7 linked regions of the Homo sapiens genome follow. The protein of the gene in region 5 interacts with the protein of the main gene of each other region in a biochemical or structural test. Each region holds a gene or a part of one and is shown on either strand. Other genes may lie near its edges. The genes, in order: ABCC6, MYOZ3, SDC3, DNM2, SHANK1, CYTIP and IQSEC2.

Region 1 (3,500 bases), on a different chromosome or scaffold from region 5:
CTTTAAACTGAGGTTCTTTGAGCAGTTCCTCCAACGTAACCTAGCTCTGGCCTTCCCTCTGGTGTGCCCACGTTCTCTCATTTTCTTCCTTTCTTTTATTCAATAGAGAAACCAAAATATATTAGAGAGACCCTAGAGACTTACTGGCCCAACAGAGAGTTGCTCCTTGATTTCATAGCAGGGATTGAAAAATGACTTGGAGAAAGGATAGTTTTTTACCTGGTGAGTACATTTCATTTCCTGCTGTTTCTCCATACCCACAGTCATCTCATATGTGCACGATTGGAGCACTTCCTGCATTTTGGAAAACACTCGGTTGGCTCAAGCCCTTCCTGTGCATTATTTATATGACAGTTACAGGTCAGGAGTGATCTGCAATGCCCTTTACACATTGTTCACATTGGCACGTTGCTAGCTGGTGACCCTGGTATACTCAGTATCAGCCAGGATGTTGCAGAACCAGCTCCCAGTTGGACATGGGGCCGCCTACCAGTTTGCTGTGACCTCTCTTATTGCCCCCCAAGCTTATCTAAGCCTGTATCCTCAGGTGCTTGGATTCGCCCTCATAGTCCTGTGTACCTCCAGCGTGGCTGTCGCTCTTTGGAAAATCCAACAGGGAACGCCTGAGGCCCCAGAATTCCTCATTCATCCTACTGTGTGGCTCACCACGATGGTAATGATGCCTTCAGTCTGGAGCCCGGCTTCCTCCCAGCTGCTGCTTTGCCTGCCACAGTGGAGAACAAGGGGAAGAGAAGAGGCTCCCCTCAGCCTCCCACCCTCCCCTAAGGGGCCTCCCTGACTTTCCCGTCCAGAGCTTCGCAGTGTTCCTGATTCACACCGAGAGGAAAAAGGGAGTCCAGTCATCTGGAGTGCTGTTTGGTTACTGGCTTCTCTGCTTTGTCTTGCCAGCTACCAACGCTGCCCAGCAGGCCTCCGGAGCGGTAAGTCGGGGCGTGGGCCACCCTGGGAAACCAAAATGGTGGCTCATGCCTTGGGTCCCTTCCTTTCTCCTCCTGTTTCCACATACAACTTATTCTCTATACAGTGACACACACAAGCCAGTCACTTACACTCTAGAGACACAAAATCCACTCCCGCACCTGTCAGTACCCATCATCCCATACATTTCTTATCAACACAATTTCCTGTCTTACAGGCCCACATCACACGTGCCACTTGCACACGATGCACACACTTATAGGCACTGATTCATACATCGCACAAGTACATGCATGCACGCACACACACACAACCTGGGCACAGACACACCTGTGTGCACACATACCCCTCCGTGCACACCTCCCCTCATGTCATGGATTCACCCTCCCCATGTTCCTATGCACCTATATTTACACACTCATTCTGCACACCACTCGTATTTCTGTTGCCCAATCTGGGAAGCAGCTTTTTTTTTTTTTTTTTTTTTTTTTTTTTTGAGAGGCTTGCTCTGTCGCCCAGACTGGAATGAAGTGGCATGATCTCAGCTCACTGCAATTTCTGCCTCTCGGGTTCAAGCACTTCTCCTGCCTCTGCTTCCTGTGTAGCTGGGATTACAGGTGTGTGCCACTACACCTGGCTTATTCTAAATTTCTACTAAATTTCTACTAAAAATTTCTACTAAATTTCTACTAAAAATTTTTGTATTTTTAGTAGAGACGAGGTTTCACCATGTTGGCCAGGCTGGTCTCGAGCTCCTGACCTCAAGTGATCCACCTGCCTTGGCCTCCCAAAGTGTCGGGATTACAGGCGTGAGCTCTTGTCATTCGGCCGGAAGCAGCGTTTCTCTATTAGGAGACATGATGGGTCATTTTCTCTGTAAAGAGAAAAACATGTAGCCTAGACCAACTTCCCTCAGCCTCAGCTTTAGTAATGTTGTGGCCAGACAATTCTTTGTTGGGTGGACAGGGCTGTCTTGTTTGCTGCAGGGTGTGAAACAGCATCCCTGGCTTCTGCCCATAGGTGCCAGTAGCATACCATCCAATTGCAGTAACCCAAAATGTCTCCAGATATTACCAAGTGTCCCTGGGGGTGAGGAGGACAAAGTCACCCACCTATTGAGAAGCACTGGCCTCGACAGTGTGCTTAGCCAAGGCTTCTGGGAGAGGGAGTTATCTTAACACCAATGAACAGGCTGCAGCAGGTTTCAGATATTTTACTTCATTATTTTATTTTTGTGGAGACAACATCATGCTTTGTTGCCCAGGCTGATCTTGAACTCCTCGGCTCGAGCAATTCTCTGACCTCAGCCTCCTAAAATGCTGGGATTAGAGGCATGAGCCACCACGTCTGGACTCACAGATCATTTCTTCAGTCCAGTGGTTACTCCATCCTGCCCCTAAAGGAGAAGGTAGAGAAGCATCACCCTGTCCTTAAGGACAGAGTTTTTATTTTTTGTTTGTTCATTCTGAGACAGAGTCTTGCTCTATTGCCCAGGCTGGAGTGCAGTGGCACGATCTTGGCTCACTACAACCTCCACCTCCGGGTTCAATCGATTCCCATACCTCAGCCTCCCAAGTAGCTGGGATTACAGGCATGTGCCACCATGCCCAGCTAATTTTTGTATTTTTAGTAGAGACAAGGTTTCAATATGTTGGCCAGGCTCATCTCAAATGCCTGACCTCAAGTGACTCACCCGCCTCGGCCTCCCAAAGTGCTGGGATTACAGGCGTGAGCCACAGCGCCTGACCGAGGACAGAGTTTTTAAAAGAGTAACCTTTGTAACTAAGGGGAAATTCCACAGGTTATTCAGTAATTTCTGAAATGGTGGGCTCCCACAGTTGACATAAGTCAGCTTTTTGGGACACAGCATAGAAACAATAATACTGGGACCATATACATTCTGGGGTTCCAACCATGTGCCAGGCACTGTGGCAGGCACTTACACACGTCTCCTCACTGGATTCTCACAAGAGTTCACAGTGATGGGTTCTTTATTTTTTTAAATAGAAATAGAAACAAAGTCTCATTATGTTCCCAAGGCTGGTCTCAAACTCCTGGGCTCAAGCGATCTTTCCACCTAAGCCTCCCAAAGTGCTGGGATTACAGGCTTGAGCCAATGTGCCCCAGCCAATGATGAATTCTAGCCGTCCCATTTTAAAGATGAGGGAGACTAAGGCTAGGAGAAGGGAATGACGGCCTCAGGGCCACAAAGCTTGGGAGTGCAGAGCCCGAGTTCATCTCAGGCAAATTCAGAACAAACTTTCTGAGAGAAACAGTGGGGAAAACAGTGGGAGTTTAGGGAAGATGGGCCATATTGTCATTGGAATATCCAATTGTCTGCTATCTGCCAAAAAACAAACAAACAAACAAAAACCCAAAACTAGAAGAGTATAAAATCCAGTAGAGGAATCATGATTTAAAACTAGGGCTCTGGTTTAAAGCCATAAAACCTCAGTTCACACTAGCTTAATGAAAAGGGTAAGTCAAGGGGGTTCATTAGCTCATGCATTTATTAGCTCATACCCATGGGATCTCCCAGGCATGACTGATCCAGGCCTGGG
Region 2 (3,500 bases), on a different chromosome or scaffold from region 5:
GCCTGTAATCCCACTTTGGGAGGCCGAGGGAGGCGGATCACTTGAGGTCAGAAGTTCAAGACCAGCCTGGCCAACATGATGAAATCTCATTTCTACTAAAAATACAAAAATTAGCTGGGCTTCTTGGCACACACTTGTAATCCCAGCTACTCAGGAGGCTGAGGTGGGAGAATCGCTTGAACCTGGGAGGCGGAGGTTGCAGTGTGCCGAGATCCTTCTACTACACTCTAGCCTGAGTGACAGAGCAAGACCCTGTCTCAAAACAAAACAAAACAAAACAACAAAAAAAAGTATTATTAAAATCACATACATAGGTTCTCTTTTAAAAAATGTTAGGCAAATAAATGTAGAGCCCCTTTGCTCACCATCCTCCAATCCCAGTTGCCTTCCCAAAGGTAACATGGTTGTCAGGCTGGCCTGAATGGGCTCAGAACATTTTGTGTGGGCAGCTGCATGCCTGTAGGGGGAATGGCGTTTGTGTGTGTGTGGGGGTGTGTGTGTTAATACTTTGCACTTCATTCTGTTAACTTGCTTTTTTTACTCAACATTACGCTTTCGAAATCTACCATACTAATACGTAGAGCTCTAGTTCCTTTTAAGCTGCTGTATAGTTTTCTTTTTCTTTTTTTTTCGCGGGGTGGAGCAGAGTTTTGCTTTTGTGGCCCAGGCTGCAGTGCAATGACACAATCTCAGCTCACTGCAACCTCTGCCTCTCAGGTTCAAGCAATTCTTCTGCCTCAGCCTCCCAGGTAGCTGGAATTACAGTCACCCACCACCATGCCCATCTAATTTTTGTGTTTTTACTAGCGACGGGGTTTCACCATGTGGGCCAGGCTGGTCTCGAACTCCTGACCTCAGGTGATCGGCCCTCCTCGGCCTCCCAAAGTGTTGGGATTATAGCCGTGAGCCACCGTGCCCAGCCTGCTGTATAGCTTTCTATCGTGTGAGCATGCTCTATCTGTCTTGCCCATTTCTCTGCTAGTGGACACGTGGGTTGTTTCTGGTTTGTCACTAATGTGCTGCTCAGGTCTGCATCCCAGTGCCTACGCGCCTGTGCTTTCCTAAGCCATATGCTCAGAGGTGAAGATGCGGGGTGACATAGTTCACACATTTCAGGTTAGAAAGATCCTGCCAAATTGTCTTCTGCGGTAGCAGCACTGGCTTACCCTCTAACCAGCAGCATGTGTGAAACTTTTCCCCCGCCATCTCACCAACTTTGCCCAGTTACCACATTATTTCATCGTGCCAGTGTCCTGGAGGAGAAATGGCATATCTGTTGTAATCTGCATTTCCCCCCTGATTTTCAGTGCTCTTTCTAATGCTCTCTTCTCTCTCTAGTTTTGGGCCTTTTGTCCTAAGGGGAGCTTACTGAAGGGGAGTCTAGAGTCTTGCCTAGGACAAGTCAATTCTGACTCCATCGGCTTCACTTCTATTGCTAAGCAACGAACCACCCAAGTAGGCGCAGACTTGGAAATGGGCAAAGTTGAAAAAAACCTCTTAAGATGTACAGAATTGCTGGGTGCGGTGGCTCACGCCTGTAATCCCAGCACTTTGGGAGGCCGAGATGGGCGGATCATGAGGTCAGGAGTTTGAGACTAGCCTGGCCAACATGGTGAAACCCCGTCTCTACTAAAAATACAAAAATTAGCCGGGCATGGTGGCACGTGCCTGTAATCCCAGCTACTCAGGAGGCTGAGGCAGGAGAATTGATTGAATCTGGGAGGCGGAGGTTGCAGTGAGCTGAGATCACCCCACTGCGCTCCAACCTGGGTGACAGAGCGAGACTCTGTCTCAAAAAAAAAAAAAAAAAAAAGATGTACAGAATCTTGCTGTATAGAAGGGAAAACTGAGGCTCAGAGAGCGGCAGGGAGGGGCCCATACATGGTGATCCACATGTCAGTGTACTGCTGTCCCTGTTCCACACAGCCCACCTCTCCTGCTGCTCTCTTTCTCCAGGACCCCGGTGCCATTTGGAGGACCCCTCGTGGGGGGCACTTTTCCCAGGCCAGGCACCCCCTTCATCCCGGAGCCCCTCAGTGGCTTGGAACTCCTCCGTCTCAGACCCAGCTTCAACAGAGTGGCCCAGGGCTGGGTCCGTAACCTCCCAGAGTCCGAGGAGCTGTAGCCCTAGCCTGAATCTTCAGTTCCCCAGTCTCGGGGGCCTGGTAACATCCGGAGCCAAGACTTGTGGACAGCACTTCACAGTTGAAGAAGGGCCTTCACACACAAAACCTGATTGCAAATGGCTTCAGAGGTCACCAAGTTCAGTCGTCCCAAAACATGGGTGTGTTTCAAAATTACCTGGGGATGTTGTTCCAAATCCAGACAACTGGACTGTCCCAGACTTGCAGCATCAGAGTCTCCTGAGTCGAGGAATCTGTATTATTAATAGCAACCAGGGCCGGGTGTCGTGGCTCACGCCTGTCATCCCAGCACTTTGGGAGGCCGAGGCAGGAGGATCACCTGAGGTCAGGAGTTTGAGACCAGTCTGGCCAAAATAGTGGAACCCCGTCGCTACTAAAAATACAAAAATGAGTCGGACATGGTGGTGCATGCCTGTAATCCCAGCTACTTGGGAGGCTGAGACAGGAGAATCACTTGAACTAGGAGGCAGAGGTTGCAGTGAGCCGAGATTGCGCCACTGCACCCCAGCCTGGACAACAGAGTGAGACTCCTTCTCAAAAGTAAATAAATAAATAGCAACCAGTACTCCAGGTGATTCCAGCATAACTTATCCATGGTTTGTGTCATTAGGAGTCCACATCCACACCTCTGCTCTTTCCTGTTCCTGTAGTGTACACTCCCCCGGTGACAGGGTGCTCACTGGCACCCCATCTTCCTGTGAATAACTCAAATAATTAGAAAATGTTCCTTTTACTGAGATGCAGTTGGTCTTCATCTATTCATGCTCTAAACAGTTCCTAAGCGCTGACTGTGCGCTAGACACTGCCAGGCCCGGGCCTCGAGGAGGAAAAGACAGTAGGGAAGACATTATAGAGCATGAAGTCACCATAATTTTCCCTAAAGCATGCTTATTGACAATTGAGGAACAAAGTGTTGTGGAGCAGAAGAAGGAGTCCCTCACCCTAGGTGTGAGATGGGATTCTGGAAGCTTCCTGAAGGATTTGAGTGGGACCTTGTGGGAGGCGTGAGAGTCCATGAAGGGGGTGTGAGGGGGAGGGTATTTCTGGAAAGTGGACCAGCATGTGCAAAAATATGGAACTGAGCACGGGTGCAGGGTGTTCTGCAGAAGGGAGAAGGCTGTGCTAGAGGAGCCAGTGAGGGCCAGCATGGGGTGGGCTTCACTAAGGAAATGGGGAAGGTTTTAGTGATGGGTCTTGCTGGGTGCTGTGTGGGGCGCATATTGGAGAAGGGTAATGCCAGAAGCCAGGAAGCCTGCAAGGGATGAGGCCATGGGAATGGAGAGAAGGGGCCACCCACTGGGCACCTAACAGGACAGGTGCAAAGTGGGGTGCTTATTAAGATTCCTTCTTTCCACT
Region 3 (3,500 bases), on a different chromosome or scaffold from region 5:
AGAATCAGAAAGGCCCTTAGACCACCATGCTTGGTTTTCCATTTTGCAAATGGGGCAAAGGAAAGGCAGAGAAGGGGGAAGAGGATTTGTCCACGGTCTTGGAGGCTGTGGGCGCCTGAGCCAGGGCTGCTACCTGCTCTCCTGTTGGGGCTGGGGTGGGGATGTGGGTGGAGGCAGGTGCCACAGTGGGAAAAAGGGCATCCTGGGGGGATGGTGGGAACACAGGGCTGGGTAGAGGGCAGACTGGAGGTGACAGGAGAGATACAGGCTTGGGGTAGGGAGGGCTCTGCTGCCATGATATCTTTGCAGAGGAGTTGACTGGGATGGGACAGGCCCAAAGGGAACATTTCCTGCCCTCTGAGCTGCCTTTGTAGATGGGAGTAGGGGGTGGGGATAGGTTTGGTTTGTGAGAGGCTTGAGTGTGTGAGTTGGGGCGAGTGGGAGGGTGTGTGTCTGGGCTTGGTGGATTTTTCTTGGGGGGGGTCTGTGGTGTTTCAGCTTGGCCTTCTCTGCCCTCCCCATTCCACTCCTCCCCGGGCTTCTGCTCTCTGGGACTTGGGCTCCATAGCCCCTTCCCCAGCAGGTGCAGTCCTCGTGCCCCTCATCTCCAGCCACAAGTGGGTGTGGGACTGCCGGCTTCCTGGCCAGGGCAGCTGTGGCTGGGTGGGGGTGGGGACTGAGACATCCCCCTCCTGGTCCCGGCTCCCAATTGTGCAGCCCCCTTGGCTGTCTTGCTGCCCGGAGCTTGGCCCCAGCCCACATTCCTGCGGTGATGCTCTGGGTCTCCGGGGTGGATCTGGTGAGCGTGAGGGGCACTGAGTTCTCACAGGACTGAGGGCTTTTTGGGGACGGAGCCTGCAGGGATCCAGAGGGCCATGCTGAGACACCCTCCCTCCCTGCCTCGAGGAGCTAGTAGTTACGTCGCTGTGTGTCTTTGGGCAAATCACTTTACCTCTCTGAATGCTTCGTGGCAGACTAACCCCGCCCCCTCCTTTCGTGATAAGCAAGGCTTTCCCCTCTCTGTGCCTCAGTTTCCACATCGGTAAAAGGGGAGAGTTGAACTCAGTGATCCCTCAGGCCCAGTGTAGCCTTGAAGTTGCAGCCTGAGGTGGGAAGTGCAGGCTGTAGGAATATAGACAAAGCCTTATACGGCTCCGACTGTGTGCAGGCATGATCTCACTTGATTCTCACAACTGCCCTATGAAGTATCATTGTTGGCCTCATTTAACCAAACAGGCTCAGAGAGGTTAAGTAACACATCCAAAGTCACCCAGCAAGTAAGCAGAGCTGAATTTGAATCCAAGACTGTCAGAACCTAAAGCTGGGCCCCCACCCCTTGCTCATGTCGCCTCTGGTCACCAGGAAAGTGAGGCCTGAGTCTGGCTAATTAGGGGAAGGAAGCTCGGGCAGAACTAATTACACTCGATTTTATTCTTGGCTTTTTGCAACATGATTAGCGCTGCACAGGGGTGCCGGGCTCCTGGCCCCCAGCCTGCTGACCTAATTTGTGTGCTTGTGTCTGTTTCTGTAACTTGCCCTTTCTCCCCCTTCATCCAACCTCTCTCTTTTTGTCTCTCTCTGCACTCTCCCCTGCTGTGTGGCCTTGGCAATGCCACTTAACCTCTCCGGGCATTAATCGTCTCATCTGCCTGGGTGTAGTCATCCCAATTTGGCTTCCCTCATGAGGAGGTTGAGGCTTACATGAGATAAAGGCTTCGAAATAATAATAGAAATTTTAACATAAACTAACAGCAATCGTGGCTACACTGATTTATTCATTTTTCACTTGGTGTCGGGTCCTGTGCTTAGCCCCTTCCCACAGCAATGCTATGAGCTGCGTAGTCTTCTCATCATCTCCATTTTACAGATGAGAAAACTGAGGTGCTGAGATTAAATGGCTTGCCTGACAGCCAACCGGGTAGTAAAGAGGAGCTGGTTCATTATGCTTTGCCTCTGTGCTGACCGGTTTCTCTAGGAAGGCTCATGGTGGTGTGGGGCTGGGCACGAGAGACCCCAAATTCTGGAGTGGGCTCTGAGAGAGGATGGGGTGGGAGGGATGCACTGGCCTTCCTGAACGTGTCCCCTGCACTCAGAGTGAGTGATGAGTGGGTGGGTAGAGGTAGCCGTGAAAGTGAGGAGACTTAGCTGACATCCAGCTCATTTGGACCCTCACCCATCACAGCCCTGATGGGGTGCTCCTGGGAGGGAGGGGGCTGGGCAACCTGGGAGGTGGCACCTCCTTGCCCCTGGCCCAGGGGAGCCTCCCCAGCTGCTGCTCTAAAACTCTAGGAGAGGATCGGTGGGAGTGGATGTGGAGTGAGGGGGCCTGTGGGTCACTGCTGGGCCTGGTCCCTTCTGGGCTGGGAGCCTGAGGTGCCTCTGTGGAGTGAGGCTGTGGGTTACTTCAGGAAGGTGTGGTGACTAGGGGACTGTGAGGAAAAATGGAAGCAGGGGGCATCAGTCCACTAGGAAGGGTGCCACATTTCATCCCGATGTGTGTGTGCACTTGTGTGTACCCGGAAGGAAAGTGCGTGTTTGCGCGCATGTGTGTGTGGAGGGAACTGAGATGCAGGTATTGTGGACCTGTTAATGGCATGTGAGGCGGGATGTATGTCTGCTGGGGCAGGTTCAGGGAGGGACAAGTAGGCTGCGCACATGTGGAGGCAGGGTGTTGGGAGTGCCTGGTGTGTTGGGTCCCGTGCTCAGCCCCTTCTCCTGCAATGCTATGAGCTGCATAGTCTTATCACCATCGTGTGCTGGCGCGTGGGTGTGGATGTTGGGTGGGCATGGACAGCTGTGGGCATTGCCGAGTTGATGTCATGCAGGGGGTGAGGGCAGCTGCGGGGCACAGATGTATGAATTTAGCCCTGGACAAGCAATGGGTCTGGGGGTGGCTCAGGAATGTCCAGGACAAGGGTTTCAGAGACAGAGGCCTCATGCCTGGATTCTAACCCCTGCCTCAGTTCCTGCATCTGTGGAATGGGGATGATAAAACCCTGGGCAGTTGTGATGCTTAAAGGAGGCTGCATAAATAACATGCTCCCAGCACCTGGCCTGGGGCAGGCCCTCAGCAGCAGCAGGCAGAGGTCTCTAGAGTGCCCTGGGAACGCTCAGCGGCTCCCCTGGGACCTGATGCTCAGGCCTTCATGGGCCGCTTGCGGAGCCTCTGCTGGGTGTCCCCTCCCGAGATCAGTGGTGGCCGGAAGCAGAAGGTTCAGTGCTTCCACCGGGCACGCTCGCTGTGTGTGGGGGGTGCAGCCGAGAGGAAAGGTTGTATCCGAGTTGTGAGGTTCATGTCTGAGTCAGAGGATGCACCTGCCGAGGGTGATGTCTAGGAGCGATGTGTGTTTAGGGAACATACGTGGCCATGGCGGTGGGTCCGTGTTGTGGGCCTTGGTGAGGTGAGTGTGGTGCGTGGGGTCAGGAGAATGTGCTGAGGTTTCTCGGGGGCATCCGTGGGGTGTGTGGTGAGGAGAGGAGTGTGTGTGTGTGTCTGTGAG
Region 4 (3,500 bases), about 40 Mb from region 5:
GGTCCTGATGTGGGAGGATGCCCGGAGGCCAGTTTAGCAGGCCAGTGGAGGGAGATCAGATCTGGGAGATATTAGGGTGGGACCAGGCCTCTAGGAACATTGTGGGCAGGGAGGCTGTCTGAGCAGAGGGAAGTAAAGCTGGTGGCGCTACTGCTGTCCCTCTGGACCTGGCCAAGCTGAGGGCTCTCTCCTTTGATTTCCAGCTTCAACTCAGTTTTCTCAGTAAGCAGACTCCACAGGCATGTAGGCGCCCCGTGCCATTTTTCTTTTAATAAGAAGCAGCTGTGCCGGGGATGCTGGCGTTTCCAGCTGCGTTTTTATTTGGCCTTTGGTGATGTGTCCCTCCAGGGATATGTGGATGAGCCGCGGGGGCACTGCCTGTGCCTCAGTGGGTGCTGCACCAGTGCACATCGGATGCCCGTTGGCTCCTGTCCCTGACAGATGGAGGGGCACGTGATGTGTTCCTTGGGCTGGTTTGTCCCTTTAACAGATCTTATTAGTTTAGAGCCACTTGGAAATGACATCTTCTGTTTCCAGTGACTTTCCTTTTGGGCAAAGACAAATTGCATCTTGAAAAGGCCATACATGGCCGGGCATGGTGACTCACACCTGTAATCCCAGCATTTTGGGAGGCCGAGGCAGGCAGATCACAAGGTTGGGAGTTTGAGACCAGCCTGGCCAACATAGTGAATCCCGATCTCTACTAAAAATACAAAAATTAGCCAGGTGTGGTGGCGCATGCCTTTAGTCCCAGCTATTTGGGAGGCTGAGGCAGGAGAATCACTTGAACCCAGGAGGAGGAACTTGCAGTAAGCGGAGATCACGCCATTGCACTCCAGCCTGGGGGACAGAGTGAGACTCCATCTCAAAAAAAAAAAAAAAAGGAAAAAAGGAAAGGCCATGCAAGGCTCGGTTAGGGTGGTCTGCAGTGCTGGGCCTGCTGGAATTGGTACAGTCCAGAGGGATCTGTGGGAATATGGAAGGCTTGGTTCTGCCACACACCAAAAAAGTGACCTCACTTCTCTGGGCCTCAGTTTCCTCATCTGGAAAATGGGAACATGGTGGTCTCTGCCTACTGGGAGTGGACTGAGAATCACGTAGCAAATTGTTGTGAAACAGGCAGCATTTGTGATCTCGTTGGTTGGCTTTTGTCTCCTTTTATCTGGGATCAGGACTCTGATGACAGGTGTACGTTTCTTTTCTCTTGCTCTGTCCCCCAGACTGGAGTACAGTGGCGTAATCATGGCTCACTGCAGCCTCCAACTCCTGGGTTCAGGTGGTCCTCTCACCTGAGTCTCCTGAGTAGCTGGGACTATAGGCATGAGCCACCACACCTGGCTAATTACAAAAAAATTTTTTTGGCAGGGAGCGATGGCTCACACTTGTATTCCCAGCACTTGGGGAGGCCGAGGCGGGCGGATCACGGGGTCAAGAGATTGAGACCATCCTGGCCAACATGGTGAAACCCTGTCTCTACTAAAAATCCAAAAATTAGGTGGGTGTGGTGGCTCTCACCTGTAGTCCCAGCTGCTCGGGAGGCTGAGGCAGGAGAATCGCTTGAACCTGGGAGGCGGAGGTTGCAGTGAGCCGAGATCGTGCCACTGCACTCCAGCCTGGGCGACAGAGCGAGACTCTGCCTCAAAAAAAAAAAATTTTTTTTTTTTTAGAGACAGGGTCTTACTTTGTTGCTCAGTTTGGTGTCAAACTCCTGGGCCCAAGCGATCCTCCTGCCTTGGCTTCCCAAAGTGGTGGAATTACAGGTGTGAGCCGCCGAACCCGGCCTTAGTTTCTTTTTCCTTAAAGAGAAGGAACTCATCATTACTCTGTTGATATAAATGGAGTGCCTATCAGTGCAGGCAATGTTCTTGCTCTGGGGATACAGCCAGGACCAGGACATGCAGGCACGCCCTGTTCCCCAGATCCTGAAATATCGACCAGAAGTTGTTCCTGGTTCCTTTCTAAGTGGGAATCATGGCTGCAAACAAGTAATTGGCCGTGAGAGTTATTTACACACATTTTGTGTACGGTGATGAGAAATGGGAGAAAAAATGCCCAGCATCGGATCACCAGAGGTCAGGAGTTCGAGACCAGCCTGGCCAACATGGTGAACCCTCATCTCTACTAAAAATACAAAAATTAGCCGGGCGTGGTGGCAGGCGCCTGTAATCCCAGCTATTCGGGAGGCTGAGGCGGAGAATCGCTTGAACCTGGGGGACGGAGGTTGCGGTAAGCCGAGATTGCGCCGCTGCACTCCAGCCTGGGCAACAGAGCGAGACTCTGTCTCAAAACAAACAAACAAACAAAAACCAATGATAGGGGATTTGGCCAGATAAGCGTGTCCAGACAACCGACTATCAACTCGCTACTCAGAGGGATCTAGAAGAATCTTTAATGACCCAGAAAGCTGCACAAGACCTGTTAGGTACCAGATGAAATGGGCTGTGGGATCCTGTCTTGTTTAAAACGATTGTATTTGCTCAGTGAAAAGACCGGAAAGACATACTCTGCCCTAACCCCACATGTGAATCGTCTCCCCATGTGATTCTTGGTTTGTTTTTGCTGGTTTGGGGATTAGGTTTATAATCAGGAAGACAGATTTCTCCAAAGCTGCGCTCTAGGCTGTCCAAGTGCTTTTTCAGAGTTACTTATTGACGGATAACAGCCCTTGATAGGTTCATAACATTGAAATCCCCTGGTAATAACCTGGATTGTTTCTGGATGAGGGCGGAAGATGGCCTTGGGGACAGTTGTAGATTTAGAGAGGAGGTTTTCTTTTCTTTTCTTTTTCTTTTTTTGTTTTTTTTTGAGACGGGATCTCACTCTGTTGCCTAGGCTGAAATGCAGTGGCGTGATCACAGCTCACAGCAACCTCAACTTCCTGGGCTCAAGGGATCTTCCCACTTCAGCCTCCCAATTAGCTGGGACCACAGGTGTGCGCCACCACCCCCAGCTAATTTTAAGAAATTTTTTGTAGAGGTGGGGTCTCATTATTTTTTGCCCAGGCTAGTCTCAAACCCCTGGGCTCAAGTGATTCTCCTGCCTCGGCTTCCCAAAGTGCTGGGATTACAGGCAAGAGCCACGGCACCCGGCCTAGGTTAGATTTAGAGTTTTCAGAGTTGGCTTAGGCGGTAGAGGCTGGCCTTTGAATGGAACCCTGTCTCGCTGTCGCTCTCAGCGTTTATATTTGGCTCAGAGCCACATCTGCCAAACTTCTGCCCGATTTGAATGAAAGTGCTGAAATTATAGGCCCCTCGGCTGCTGAAAAAAAGTGAGAACATCATGTAAACCGTAATTTACTGGGATTGCCAACTACAAGCTGTAATTAAGCCCTTATTGTGTTAAAGCTTTGGAAAAATCCAAGCCAATAATGAGATATTTATAGGGCATTAGCTACAATCTGAATAAAGGGAAAATGTGGCCCTGCGTCTGAAGCAGGACTGCAAAGAGAGGAAAGACGCCTGCTTCCGGGTGCGTTTTGGGTTTCTGTGAATATTGGTAAC
Region 5 (4,235 bases):
ACGCATCAAGATAGAGGCCTCCCCAGGCTGAGCAGGCACCTCCTCCAGCTCATACTCGGGTACCCCGGAGAGCCTGCAGCTGGAGGGGAACCCAGAAGCTGCCTAGAACTGCCCCCTGCAGGCCCTGGAGGTGCTGTTGGAGCTGGGAGAATGAGGAAGCCTGGGCTAAGGGGACACTCACCACTCACTGCTGCCCTGTGGGATCTGCTCTGTCCCTGTGGGTGCGTCCCAGGCATGAATGAGCTGTCTGCCTGCAGCTGGCTGCATATGCGTGCCTACACAGACATGTGCAAACTCTGAGGAGACGGTTGGGTGTGTCTGTGTGTGATGAATAAGGATATGCAACTATGAGGGGATATGCCCAGTAGTGCACCATAGTTGTCAAGTGAGGACTTTGGAGCCAGCCTACCTGTTCCTGATCCTTGTTACCACCTCCTTACAGCTGGATGACCTTGGGCAAGTTACTTAGCCTCTCTGTTCCTTGGTTTCCCCCTCTGGAAAATGGGGATGGCGAAAGTCCCTGAGCCTGGCACACAGAAAGTGCTCCAGGAATGTCAGCAGTAACTATCCTGGAGGGGAAGGATGGCACGGTGTTGGGCATGTAAACGGGTGAGTGCGAGCCAGTGCAATGGACAGCACGGTGGGTGGGTGTGATGGGAAGGCGTGCACACGTCTCTACAGTGCTGTAACTCCGTTTTGGTGTTGAGAGATCTGGGCATGCATACCGGGGTGAACGCCTGTGTGCGTGTGTGCGCGCGCACGTGCGTGTGTGGTGGGCAAATGTGTGCATGTGCTGCGTGTGTGCCCGGGCACAGGGGTGTGACAACTGCATGTAGCTGGGTGTGTTTGTAGCTGTGTACCCCAGGTGCATTGTGTCTGGGCATGCATGCGCTGGAGAGTGTGTGTATGTGGGGACTCTGCAGGTGCCGTTACAGCTGGTGACTATGCACCTGTGCCTTGGGGAAATGTGGCCTGGCCCAGGTATGTCCACGTGTGCCCTGACCCAGTGCTTAAATGGAAAGGGTGTGTGTGTGTTTGGGGGGACAGGGTGGGAATCTATAGCCTTCACACTTAAATTTGGGGGTGTAGAGTCTGGCAACAAATATTTATTGTGCCCCACTCTGTGTAGGGCGGCGGGGAGCTCTCTGGGAGGGGGTGGTCCTGAGGTGTGTGTGGGGGGGCACCTTATGGGGGCAGGACCCCTTCCTCGGGGTATGGGAGCAAGCAGGGGCGGAGTCAGGATTTGGGGACTCGGAGGTGGGGAGGAGTGGTGGGGGAGGGCAAGGGTAGGGGGCGGAGCCGGCGGTGGTGGGGGATGGGCGAGGTTTGGGGGCGCGGGGAGGGGCGATGTCTCCTCCGCCGGCTCCCGGAGGGAGGGGAGAGGGCGGAGGGAGGGGAGGGAGGGAGAGAGGGAGGGAGAGAGACAGGGTGAGGGAGAGACAGCGAGAGCGAGAGAGCGAGAAGGGTGGCAGAGGAGGCGCGGAGCGGGCGGCGGCGGCGGCGGCCCGAGGAAGAGGAGGAGGAAGAGCAGGCGGAGACGCGGCGCCCGGAGCCGGCCGGACCGAGCCGGGGGCGGGCGAGGAGGGGCGCGGCGGCCGCGGCGGAAGGGGGGGCGCTCTGCGGATGGCCAGGCCCGGCCCGCGGGGGGGGTGAGGTCCTCGGCCCTCCCGCCCTCCCCCCCGGTCCCCGCCCGCCCCCTCCCCGGGCCCGCTCGCCCTCCGGGGCGGTGGGGCATGGCCTGAGGGTCCCCGTCTCCGGGGGGGTGGGGGGTGGGGGGAGGGGGGAGGGGCCGCGGGCGCCGCCGACCGGGACTCAGCAGCCCCGCCAGGCAGGTAAGGGGGTCGAGAACCTGGGGGTTTGGGGCAGCTGCGGGGCCGGGGCCGCGGGAGGGGGCGAGGGCGCCCCGGATGTCCTTGGCCCGGCGCCGGGCTCCTGGCCTGGGTGTGCGGCTGGGGGTACGGGTGAGGTGGGGAGCGTTGCCCTGGGCGACACCAAATTGGGTTACGCCCGGGTCCCCGGTGCCCCGTCCCAGATCGCATCCTTGATGGGAGGGCGCGCCCCCCACCCCCGGCCAGCAGAGCCCCTATCCCGAACCCGCCTCCCGGCTCTCCGGGGCCAAGGGCTCGGTCCTGGTACCCGCCTCCCCGCCCAGCCCGGCCACTCCCCCGCCTCGCCCTCCCTGGCGTACCTGGGCCCCTCCGCCAGGTCACCCTGGTCCCCACTCCCCTCCAGCGAGGGTCTAGGCCCGGGCCTCCTCCGCCCCTTTCGACCCCTCCAGCTCCCGCTTCTCCTTCCAGGCTCCTCCAGTCCCTTTCCACCCCTGTCCAAGCTCCCTGCGTCCCCACCAGGTCTCCAGTCCCTACACCGCCGGCCGGCGCGCCCCCTCGGCTCCCGCCCCCGACTCCTGCTCCCCGGTGCCCCCCGCCCCTCTCCCCGGCCGGGTTCTCCCCCACCAGTTTCCCAGCCTCGGCTCCGGCTCTCTCTCCCCGCCCCTCCCCGCCTCCCTCCGCCTCCATTCATTCTCCCCGGCCCCGCTCTCGGCCACGCCAGCCGCCCCCTGTCCCCCCACAGCCTCCCAGGGCACCCCCTCTCTCGCGTCCTCCACCACCCCCCTCGCCGATTCCTCAGCCCGTCTCGGTACCAGCTGCGTGCCAGCTATTCTTAGCCGCGGAGCGTTTGATTCATGCCGCCCCGGCGGAGCGTGCCCGCTCCCTCCCGCGAGCCCTGAGGGGGAGGGGCCGGAGCCGGCCCGGGGGGGCTGGGGCAGCCGTACGCGCGGGGGGCCCTAGCCAGCTTTTCTTTCATCCCACCGGCCACCCCCTCCGAGCGGGGTTGAGGCTGGGGGTCAGCCAGGGTCAGCCGAGGGGGAGTGTCTGCGGGCCCCAGATCGCGAGGTGGGCTGTGCGGCGGGGCAGGGAGGAGGCAGCCGGGGTCTCCGCAGGGACGAGGTGGGGCGGCGTGGCTGGGTACCTGGAGGGGGAGGGGGCTTCGCAGCGCTGCCGCGCGTGGGGGAGGGGTCCGCCGGCCCTGGGTTAGAGGCTCGCTCGCCCACACCTCCTGGAACTCTCCTCCCACCACACACATTTAGTCTTCCCTTTCCCAACCCCCCAGCCCATCCCCACTCCCCCAAAGTCAGCAGTACCCTCCACTGCTTCCCATCTCCATGGCAACGGTGCAGGAACCGGGCCTGGTGTTGGGGGGAGGGACCAGACCAGACATTCTGGTTTCCGGTGCTGGGGTGGGAGTTGGGGGAGAACAGAAGGGAGGCGGACCCCATTTGGAAGGGGCTCCACCCTCATAAGGCCACCTCAAGGGAGAACAGCAAGGATCTAGAGATGATCCCCCACTCAGTTCCCCAGACCCTCCTCTCACTTCTTAGCCTCCCTCCTAACACCCCCAGTCCTCAGAGTGGAGCCCCTAGTACCCAGCAAGCCAGCCCACCCACCCTGCAGTCCTAGAAAAGAGCTACAGGTCATCTGCAGCCACCCACATCTACCCGGGCCACCACACCACTGTCACCTGGACAGCACTCCCCAGGCCGACCTCCCCACCTACCCGCACACCCTCTCAAGATGCCCCAGTCTCCAAAAGCCACCTCTTGTGGTTCCCTTGGGGACACCCTAGGCCAAATGCTCTGCCCATGACACCCCCATCTCAGTGCCCCTTGCTCCCCTGGGACGGCAGATTCCCCAGCACTATTCGGCATGCCACGCGTTGTCAGCCACACTTGAGTGAAGTCACCAGCTCCACCCGCTCCAGGCTCACCACACCTCCCTCTCCCCCTTACTACATCTCAGTGTCAGCCTCAGCTTCTCCCCAACCCCACCCCCCGGCCCTGGGATGAGGGGCCAGGCTGGGGCCAGGAGGGCAGGATGCCTGTCAGTTTGTCCACCTGTCTGTCCTTAGCTAATTTTAGCTGCATTTTCTGTGGCCTGGCAAAGTGGGCCAGTAGCTCCCGCGGTGATTCTGCGGTTTCTGGGACACGGCCACGCTGGGTCACCAGCAAAGTGGGGCGCAGGGGGCGGGCTGCAAGCGGGGCCAAGGGCAGGGAAGGAGACACATGCCAGAAGCATGTCAGGGACAGGGGTGTGTGCGTGCCAGCGTGGGAGGAGGCGGCAGGGGAGGCCGTGCAGGCCGAGGGTGTGTCCAGCCTCCTTCCTGCCTATCTTGGGCAGTGGGGGTAGGCTGCCCTTGACCGCTTGACCACCGAATAGCGCCTGCGGCCTCTGAGGGGT
Region 6 (3,500 bases), on a different chromosome or scaffold from region 5:
TCTTCAGAATCAATTGGGTGTTTACATTCAGAATTATTTAAAGATAGATTTCTCTGTGTGCATATTATCTCACTACCTGTACTGATAGGAAGTGTCAGACACCCCAGTATGGCTTCTACTTGTGAACACAGTTTTAGGACAAAAAAAAAAAATCTTTGCAATGGAAAGCTCGGTAGGAAGGAGACAGGAGGAATTAAGGACAGTCTCTATCAATGATGTCAAAGAAGTAGTGATTGTCTTACCACCCACTCTCATAAATGTAGTACGTTGCTTTTGGAAAGCAGTTTTTACAGAATGCTATAGTGAGAACCAGGGACCTGACAAACAAGTCCACAAACTTCAGTGGTACCACAGACTGACTCTCTTTTCCTAATTTTCTTTTAGTTATCACATTATTGCTAAATAGGCAACTTCTGGCAGGCTGATTTCATCTATAAGTTCAGATAGGGAATGTGTGCTCTGCTCTGGGATGTGTACACTGCTGGGCTGGGCTCTGCCCTGCAGGAGCTTTCACGGTGTGTCCGGCAGCACACCCATCAGGTGCCGTAACTCCCAATTGTCCTGAACTACACCAAAGGATTTTAATCACCTCATGACAATTTTAGGTAGAAAACTGTGCTAATTTCACTAGAAAAGACTTTGAAAATTATTCTTTAATCTGTATTGTGGCATGCATGGTCAATATCCAATAATTTTTCTTGAAGAGTCTGTGAGCCCACCATCAGACCTTACTTGGAAATGGCGGTATTGTATTTCGGTTTCTCCGGGCACTTAACGTCAGGAAATTAAGTTCAGCTCCATTATTTTGTTGCATCTTTGAATAGTCTGTGGAGCGTTGATATCCTAATGCTCCTTATTTAAAAGTGGGTGGGAGTTGCATGGAAGAATTGGGGAGTGAGGCAGGGGACTGGAAAGGGAGCAGAGCACATAATTTTGGGGCCTTTGAAACAAGTAACAGTGACAAAAAACCTCACTCTGGAATCAGTAACCTCTCCCCCGCACCCTCCCCAACACTTTCAGGAGATGAGTATATAGAGTGGGGACCAGGAGGAAGTAACCTCTGTAACCCAGAAGTGGCTAAAGTGTTGAACTTTGAGCTTCTCTAAGGAGAGCTGGCTATCTGGCTGAGCTGCCAAGTACTCCTGTCTTTCAGAAATTGACAGCTGAAGTATTTGGTCTTGGTTTCCCACTGAAGAGGAATGTGTAGAATCACTGCAGAGCAGAAGAAATTAAATTTTGAATATTAATGCCTGATCTTTTAAGTTATCTGACTAAAAACAGAAGAGTGATCATAAGCCCAACCCTAGGTATCAGTGTATTATGGCTAGCAAGGAGTTAAGAAGCTTTGTCTATTCAGCAGTCATAATTGAATGTGTAGTTTGCAAGCCTGCCAAATTGCTAAACCTAGATTTCTCATATTAGATAATGTGTAATAAAAGACAGCTGTTGCCAGCATATGCTGTGAATTGCACACCAGTTCCTCATTCATGATTTTTGGCGCCATCACTACAACCCTTAGAAAAGGCTCTGACTGGAGGGCTGTCTGGGGAACATAGACCCCACTGGTCAGATCCTTGAATAAGGCTGCTCGCCCTAGGGAAAGCGGGGCAGGAAAGACTTTTTTTTTTTTTCAAAGTGCAAAACCCTTGATAAGACCTTAGACACACTTCATTTCACTTTAGGCAGGTAGTTTGGTGTGTGAGCTAGTTTCGAACCCTGGGAACATTCCTTTCCACATCGCCTGAGTCTGACAGCCCGGATCAAAAACAAGCAGGCTTTGTGTCAAGACGTGGCACGTGTCAGAGAATTTGACGGTACTTAATTTATTTAAATTGTTTTTTGTTTAAGTGTTAGATGCTTGAAACAGCCTCTTAGCTAATACCGAATGGAAACTAATTTGTAATTTGACTTAATCTGACTTTTGGTGTTGCTGATAACCCAAATTAGTCAGTCCACAGGAACTGAAAATCTGCTATGCTTCTCATGTTGTGCTAGACAAATATTTTCATCTTTAACTAGTCAATTAGCTAGATAGAAAGGTTAGAAGTAGAGTGGTGGGGGAAATATCTATAGAGGCTTCAGGTCTGTCCTGTGGTTTAAAAGATTTTACATTTGAATCTATCCAGAATGACTTTTGATTCAAAAGACCGATTGGATGAAATCTTGAAGTTCCTAATAGATGCACTGATTTCCGGCATACTAAAAGGGTATTTAAAATTGACAAGGCTCAAAATTTTACTAATAATTTATTAATTCTTGCCACCATTCATCCACTTAGCAGCTATGTACTAAGGCACTACTATCTTTGTTTTCTGTTAGTACTTTTTCTGCATTTCTTGTTTCGGATTGAATTTTTTTTTTTGTTCTTGTCTGTTTTCTTTCATTTAAAATTTTTTGGTTTTTAAAATTTGTACTTATTCAGTTGATATATAATCATACATACTCATGGTATACATAGTGATGTTTTGATACGTGGAATGTACAGTGATCAGATCAGAGTAATTAGCATATCCATCACCTCCCTCACACAATGATCATTTCTTCATTTTGGGACTGTTGAATATCCTCCTTCTAACTATTTGAAACTAGTACATGATATACTATTGTTAACTATAGTTAGCCTACAGTATAGAGCACTAGAACTTATTCTTCCTATCTAGCTGTAATTTTTTATCCTTTAACAAGTGTGTCCCTATCCATTTCTTCCCCCAACCCTTCCCAGCCTCTAGTATCCTCTGTTCTACTTTTTACTTCTATGAGATCAACTTTTTTTAGCTTCCACATATGAGTGAGAACATGTGGTGTTTAACTTTCTATTCCTGGCTTATCTCACTTAACATAATGTCTTCCAGTTCAATCCATGTTGCTGTGAATGACAGGATTTCATTCTTTTTTATGGCTGAATTGTATTCCATGGTGTATATATACCACATTTTCTTTATCCATTCATCTGTTGTTGGACACCTAGGCTGATGCCATCTCTTGGCTATTGTGAATAGTGCTGTAATAAACATGGGAGTGCAGATGTCTCTTCGATATAATGATTTCCTTTCCTTTGGATGAATTCCCAGTAGTGGGATTGCGGGATCATATGGTAGTTCTATTTGTAGTTGTTTGAGGGACCTCCATACTGTTCTCCATAGTGGCTGTACTAATTTACATTCCCACTAACAGTGTATGAAAGTTCCCTTTTCTCCTTATCCTCACCAGCATTTATTATTTATTGTCATTTTGATCATAGCTATCCTAACTGGTGTGAGATGATACCTCATTGTGGTTTTAATTTCCATTACCCCAATGATGAGTGATATTGAGCATTTTTTCATATATTTGTTAGCCATTTGTATGTCTTCTTTTTCTTCCTTTCTTTTTTTTTTTTCTTTTTTTTTTTGAGATGGAGTCTCACTCTGTCGCCAGGCTGGAGTGCAATGGCATGATCTCAGCTCACTGCAACCTCCGCCGCCCGGGTTGAAGCGATTCTTCCAACTCAGCTTCCCTAG
Region 7 (3,500 bases), on a different chromosome or scaffold from region 5:
CTAGTAGATTGCCCCTCCTGCTCTCTCTCCATCAAGCCTCTGATGAGGTGCAGCCAGACCATGTTCTGCAGTCCAGCTCCAGTAGTTTCACTCTCTCTTTGGCCTGAGAACTCCTCCGCCTGCCCTGCATGGTCTTCTTAGGATCTGTCCCCAGTTTGCCTTTTTCCTCTCGTCTTTGTACAGACTATGCTCCAGCCAGGCTGACCCGTGTGCCCCCCTGGTTAGCCCACTCAGGCCTTCTGCTAGCCTCTAGGTCTTTGCTCATGTTGTTCCCTTCTCTTGGGCTGCTGTACCCAGTTCCCAGGCTGGACTCAGCTGTTACCTCTCCTATGTCTGTTTGCTGGTGTCTCTGATGTTTGGTCTATCCTTGACCCTCTCAATGAGCACATTGCCCCTTTTTATTCCTTCATGGTTGTTTACATCTCATGTCCCCTCTGTTAGACTGAGACCCCCTTCAGATTTACATTTAACTGACATATACTGAGTGCATTTTGTGTGTCAGGTTCTGTGTTAGGTGCTGTGGGCATGAGTGAAGGAGCTAAAAGCTTGGAAACACATAGCACAGCACATAGTAGCTGCTTAATAAATACTGAGTAGATAAATGAATGTCTGATTGAGTCCTGCTGAACTAATAGCCAAAGGTACCTAATTTTTTCTTCCTTCCAGGACTCCTGTAGTAAGAAATGACAACTTCAGAATTCTCTTGGGGTAGGCACAGTAGCTCCCAGCACTTTGGGAGGTCAAGGCGGGAGGATCACTTGTGCCAGGGAGGTTGAGGTTACAGTGAACTATGATTGTGCCACTGCACTCCAGCCTGGGCAACAAATTGAGATCCCATCCCTAAGGAAAAATAAATTCTTTTGGCTTTTCTGTGGCTTTTTTCTCATGCTCCCTGGAGCCATTTTGGCCTTTGCTGTCTCTTCTCACGCTCACCAGCCTTCCGATTCATAGAATGTCAAGGTAGCAGACTTGGACGAGACTTTGGAGACATTTAGACCAATCTGCTGATCATTATCTCTCCCTGCCATGTCAGGCTGTGGTCCTGACCCTCGATGCCAAGTCTTCTGTTCTGAAAGGAGCAAAGAGGCCTGCACAGGACCTGTGTGCAGTTCACTCAGCCCAGTGGGAAGTTGCTTATTTATCCATCAAACCTTTCTTGAGCTCAGACCCTGAGCTGGACATGGTATCTCAGGGTTGACATAAGACTTGGCCCCTCTGCCTCACTCACTGCAGTGTTCCCTGGCAGGATCATAAACATTGGTCATGGGGAAGAATGCTTAGTAAGTGACTTACTTCCTCTTTTGGGGAAGCTCGTTTAGGGCAACATAATTTGCCAGTTACTATAACTTCCTCATGGTATTTGGTTTCTCTCCAAGCCTGCCTGTTGGAAGCATTTACACGGGGAAGCCCATTCCCCAGTGCTTAGTAGCTGAAGCTCTCTGGGACCTTAGCATTCAGAGAAAGTGTGGTGCCATGGAAGGACTTTGTGTAACTCTAGGCAAATCACTTCACTTTCAGAGCCTCAGTTTTCTCAAGTAGTAAATAGGAATAAAACTGTATTTTCTGATGCATGAGATTCATGTTGCCAGCCCCCTACCTCCCTCAAAAAAATTGTATCAGAAAATTTCCTGGCTGCCTGGCATACCGTACATCAAGGTCCTGATCAGGCTGGAAAGCTGAGAATGGAAAATAATACATGAGACTGCCCTGCCCCCTAGAGGCGGAATGTGGCAAACACACAACAATGCAAAGACCGATGCATCGCATCCCTTTCAAAACAAAGATGACAAGCCAGAGCTACACGGCTGATCAGGATTATTCCTCCAACATTTTAGATGTAAATGTATCACTATCATCACCTAATAGGTACCATTTCACTAATGTTTCACTAGTGCATTTCGTTGGAGCGATGTGATTTTTATACCTTTTTAAAGGAGTGATAGGACTGCATATCCAGGCCCTGTGATTTCCTGCTGGATTCCAGGATACAGCATACTGCATTCACCTGAATAAAACCAATATTTTCCTTCATATAACCACTTTAGAATTATTGTCATTATATCTGTGATGAAAAGTACCTAACTTGGCTCTTCCCCCACATTTTCTTATAAATCTGAGAGGCATCTCTCACAACTGTATATCTGATATGCCAGCCAATTCATAAACAACCCATCTCATTGTGATGGTTGTGAAAATTAAATAAGATGACGTAGGTGAAGCGCTGAGCACACAGTATGTGTTTACTCAGCGATAGCCATTATTATTAATAATAACTCTGTAAAGCTCTGTGCTGTGGGAGGACAGGAGGAGAAACCATGTGGCAGCTCACCACATTTCAGAGAGAGAGGTCAGTCCAGTGAACATTGCATGCCAGGATGTGCCATGCCTTGTGCCATCACAGGCAGAGAATTCTATGATTAGTATATAGTTCCTGGCTTCAAGGTGCTCATAATTGGGTGGAGAAGGTGGTGGTGGAAATAGACGATTGCAGTGTGCTATCCAGTGTGTCATGCCAGAGGGGAGCACAGGGGGCCACAGGTGCTCAAAGGAGAGACATCACCCTGGACTGTCAGGGAAGGCTTACTGGAGGAGGTGATACCTGAGCTGAGGCTTGGAGGATGAGTTTGAGTTAGCTAGGTGAAGAAGGACAGCATGTGGGTTGGTGGGAATTGGGGGCAAAAGGGAGGTTAAGGCAGAGGGGCCAGCATGAGCAAACACACAGAGGTATGGGCCCAGCAGGATATGTGTATGGGGAGGTTTTTTGTTTGTTTGTTTTGTTTTTTTATGAGTTCAGTACAAACTAGAGCACAAACAGAGAGACTCGCAGGGGAGTCTGGAGGGTTGGCCGGCTCACATCTTGAGGACACTTCACTAGCAGCGTCAGGAGCTTTCTGCTGTTTTGTTTTTGTGTTGTTTTTGTTTTTATTTTTTTGAGACGGAGTTTTGCTCTTTCGCCCAGGCTGGAGTGAAGTGGCGTGATCTCAGCTCACTGCAGCCTCTTCCCCGCCCCAGGTTCAAGCAATTCTCCTGCCTCAGCCTCCCGAGTAGCTGGGATTACAGGCGTGTGCCACTATGCCTGGCTAATTTTTGTATTTTTAGTAGAGACAGGGTTTTGCCATATTGGCCAGGCTGGTCTCAAACTCCTGACCTCAGGTGAGCCACCTGCCCTGGCCTCCCAAAGTACTAGGATTACAGGCATGAGCCACCATGCCTGGCCAAGTAGCATTTTAAACTGGGGGAGAGGTGCTTATTGTGGTGTGGGAGAACATGTCAAGAGCCACGTTTTGGAGAGATCCCCCTAGAGGGCAGTTTGGAAGATAGATTGGAGGGTATCCAGGGAGGAGGCTGGTACAGCAGTCTAGATGAGAGATGATCAGGCCTGTGCTTGGGCAGTGGGAGTAGAGATAACCTATGTGGGGAGAAAGATGATGATGGAGGGGAGCGCAGCCTGCTCTGGAAGCTCAGAGGAGTGGCAGCGTTCATGACCAGTAGGGTTTTAA

What was found.
Region 1: the proteins of SHANK1 (region 5) and ABCC6 interact in a test that uses a peptide from one of them, tested with the Homo sapiens proteins (one large-scale study listed by IntAct).
Region 2: the proteins of SHANK1 (region 5) and MYOZ3 interact in a test that uses a peptide from one of them, tested with the Homo sapiens proteins (one large-scale study listed by IntAct).
Region 3: the proteins of SHANK1 (region 5) and SDC3 interact in a test that uses a peptide from one of them, tested with the Homo sapiens proteins (one large-scale study listed by IntAct).
Region 4: the proteins of SHANK1 (region 5) and DNM2 form a complex in vitro, tested with the Homo sapiens proteins (one study listed by BioGRID).
Region 6: the proteins of SHANK1 (region 5) and CYTIP interact in a test that uses a peptide from one of them, tested with the Homo sapiens proteins (one large-scale study listed by IntAct).
Region 7: the proteins of SHANK1 (region 5) and IQSEC2 interact in a test that uses a peptide from one of them, tested with the Homo sapiens proteins (one large-scale study listed by IntAct).

Annotation. Positions count from the first base shown.
Region 1 is NC_000016.10:16,216,995-16,220,494, reverse strand, and holds part of ABCC6 (ATP-binding cassette sub-family C member 6), read left to right. Parts: intron 1-547; coding exon 548-673; exon of another isoform or gene 674-812; coding exon 813-941; intron 942-3,500.
Region 2 is NC_000005.10:150,674,751-150,678,250, forward strand, and holds part of MYOZ3 (myozenin-3), read left to right. Parts: intron 1-1,956; coding exon 1,957-2,125; 3' UTR 2,126-3,500. UniProt on the Homo sapiens protein: Myozenins may serve as intracellular binding proteins involved in linking Z line proteins such as alpha-actinin, gamma-filamin, TCAP/telethonin, LDB3/ZASP and localizing calcineurin signaling to the sarcomere.
Region 3 is NC_000001.11:30,881,259-30,884,758, reverse strand, and holds part of SDC3 (syndecan-3), read left to right. Parts: intron 1-3,500. UniProt on the Homo sapiens protein: Cell surface proteoglycan that may bear heparan sulfate. May have a role in the organization of cell shape by affecting the actin cytoskeleton, possibly by transferring signals from the cell surface in a sugar-dependent mechanism.
Region 4 is NC_000019.10:10,724,579-10,728,078, forward strand, and holds part of DNM2 (dynamin-2), read left to right. Parts: intron 1-3,500. UniProt on the Homo sapiens protein: Catalyzes the hydrolysis of GTP and utilizes this energy to mediate vesicle scission at plasma membrane during endocytosis and filament remodeling at many actin structures during organization of the actin cytoskeleton.
Region 5 is NC_000019.10:50,717,003-50,721,237, reverse strand, and holds the start of SHANK1 (SH3 and multiple ankyrin repeat domains protein 1), read left to right. Parts: upstream 1-1,435; 5' UTR 1,436-1,832; intron 1,833-4,235. UniProt on the Homo sapiens protein: Seems to be an adapter protein in the postsynaptic density (PSD) of excitatory synapses that interconnects receptors of the postsynaptic membrane including NMDA-type and metabotropic glutamate receptors via complexes with GKAP/PSD-95 and Homer, respectively, and the actin-based cytoskeleton.
Region 6 is NC_000002.12:157,437,590-157,441,089, reverse strand, and holds part of CYTIP (cytohesin-interacting protein), read left to right. Parts: exon of another isoform or gene 1-1,814; intron 1,815-3,500. UniProt on the Homo sapiens protein: By its binding to cytohesin-1 (CYTH1), it modifies activation of ARFs by CYTH1 and its precise function may be to sequester CYTH1 in the cytoplasm.
Region 7 is NC_000023.11:53,311,351-53,314,850, reverse strand, and holds part of IQSEC2 (IQ motif and SEC7 domain-containing protein 2), read left to right. Parts: intron 1-3,500. UniProt on the Homo sapiens protein: Is a guanine nucleotide exchange factor for the ARF GTP-binding proteins.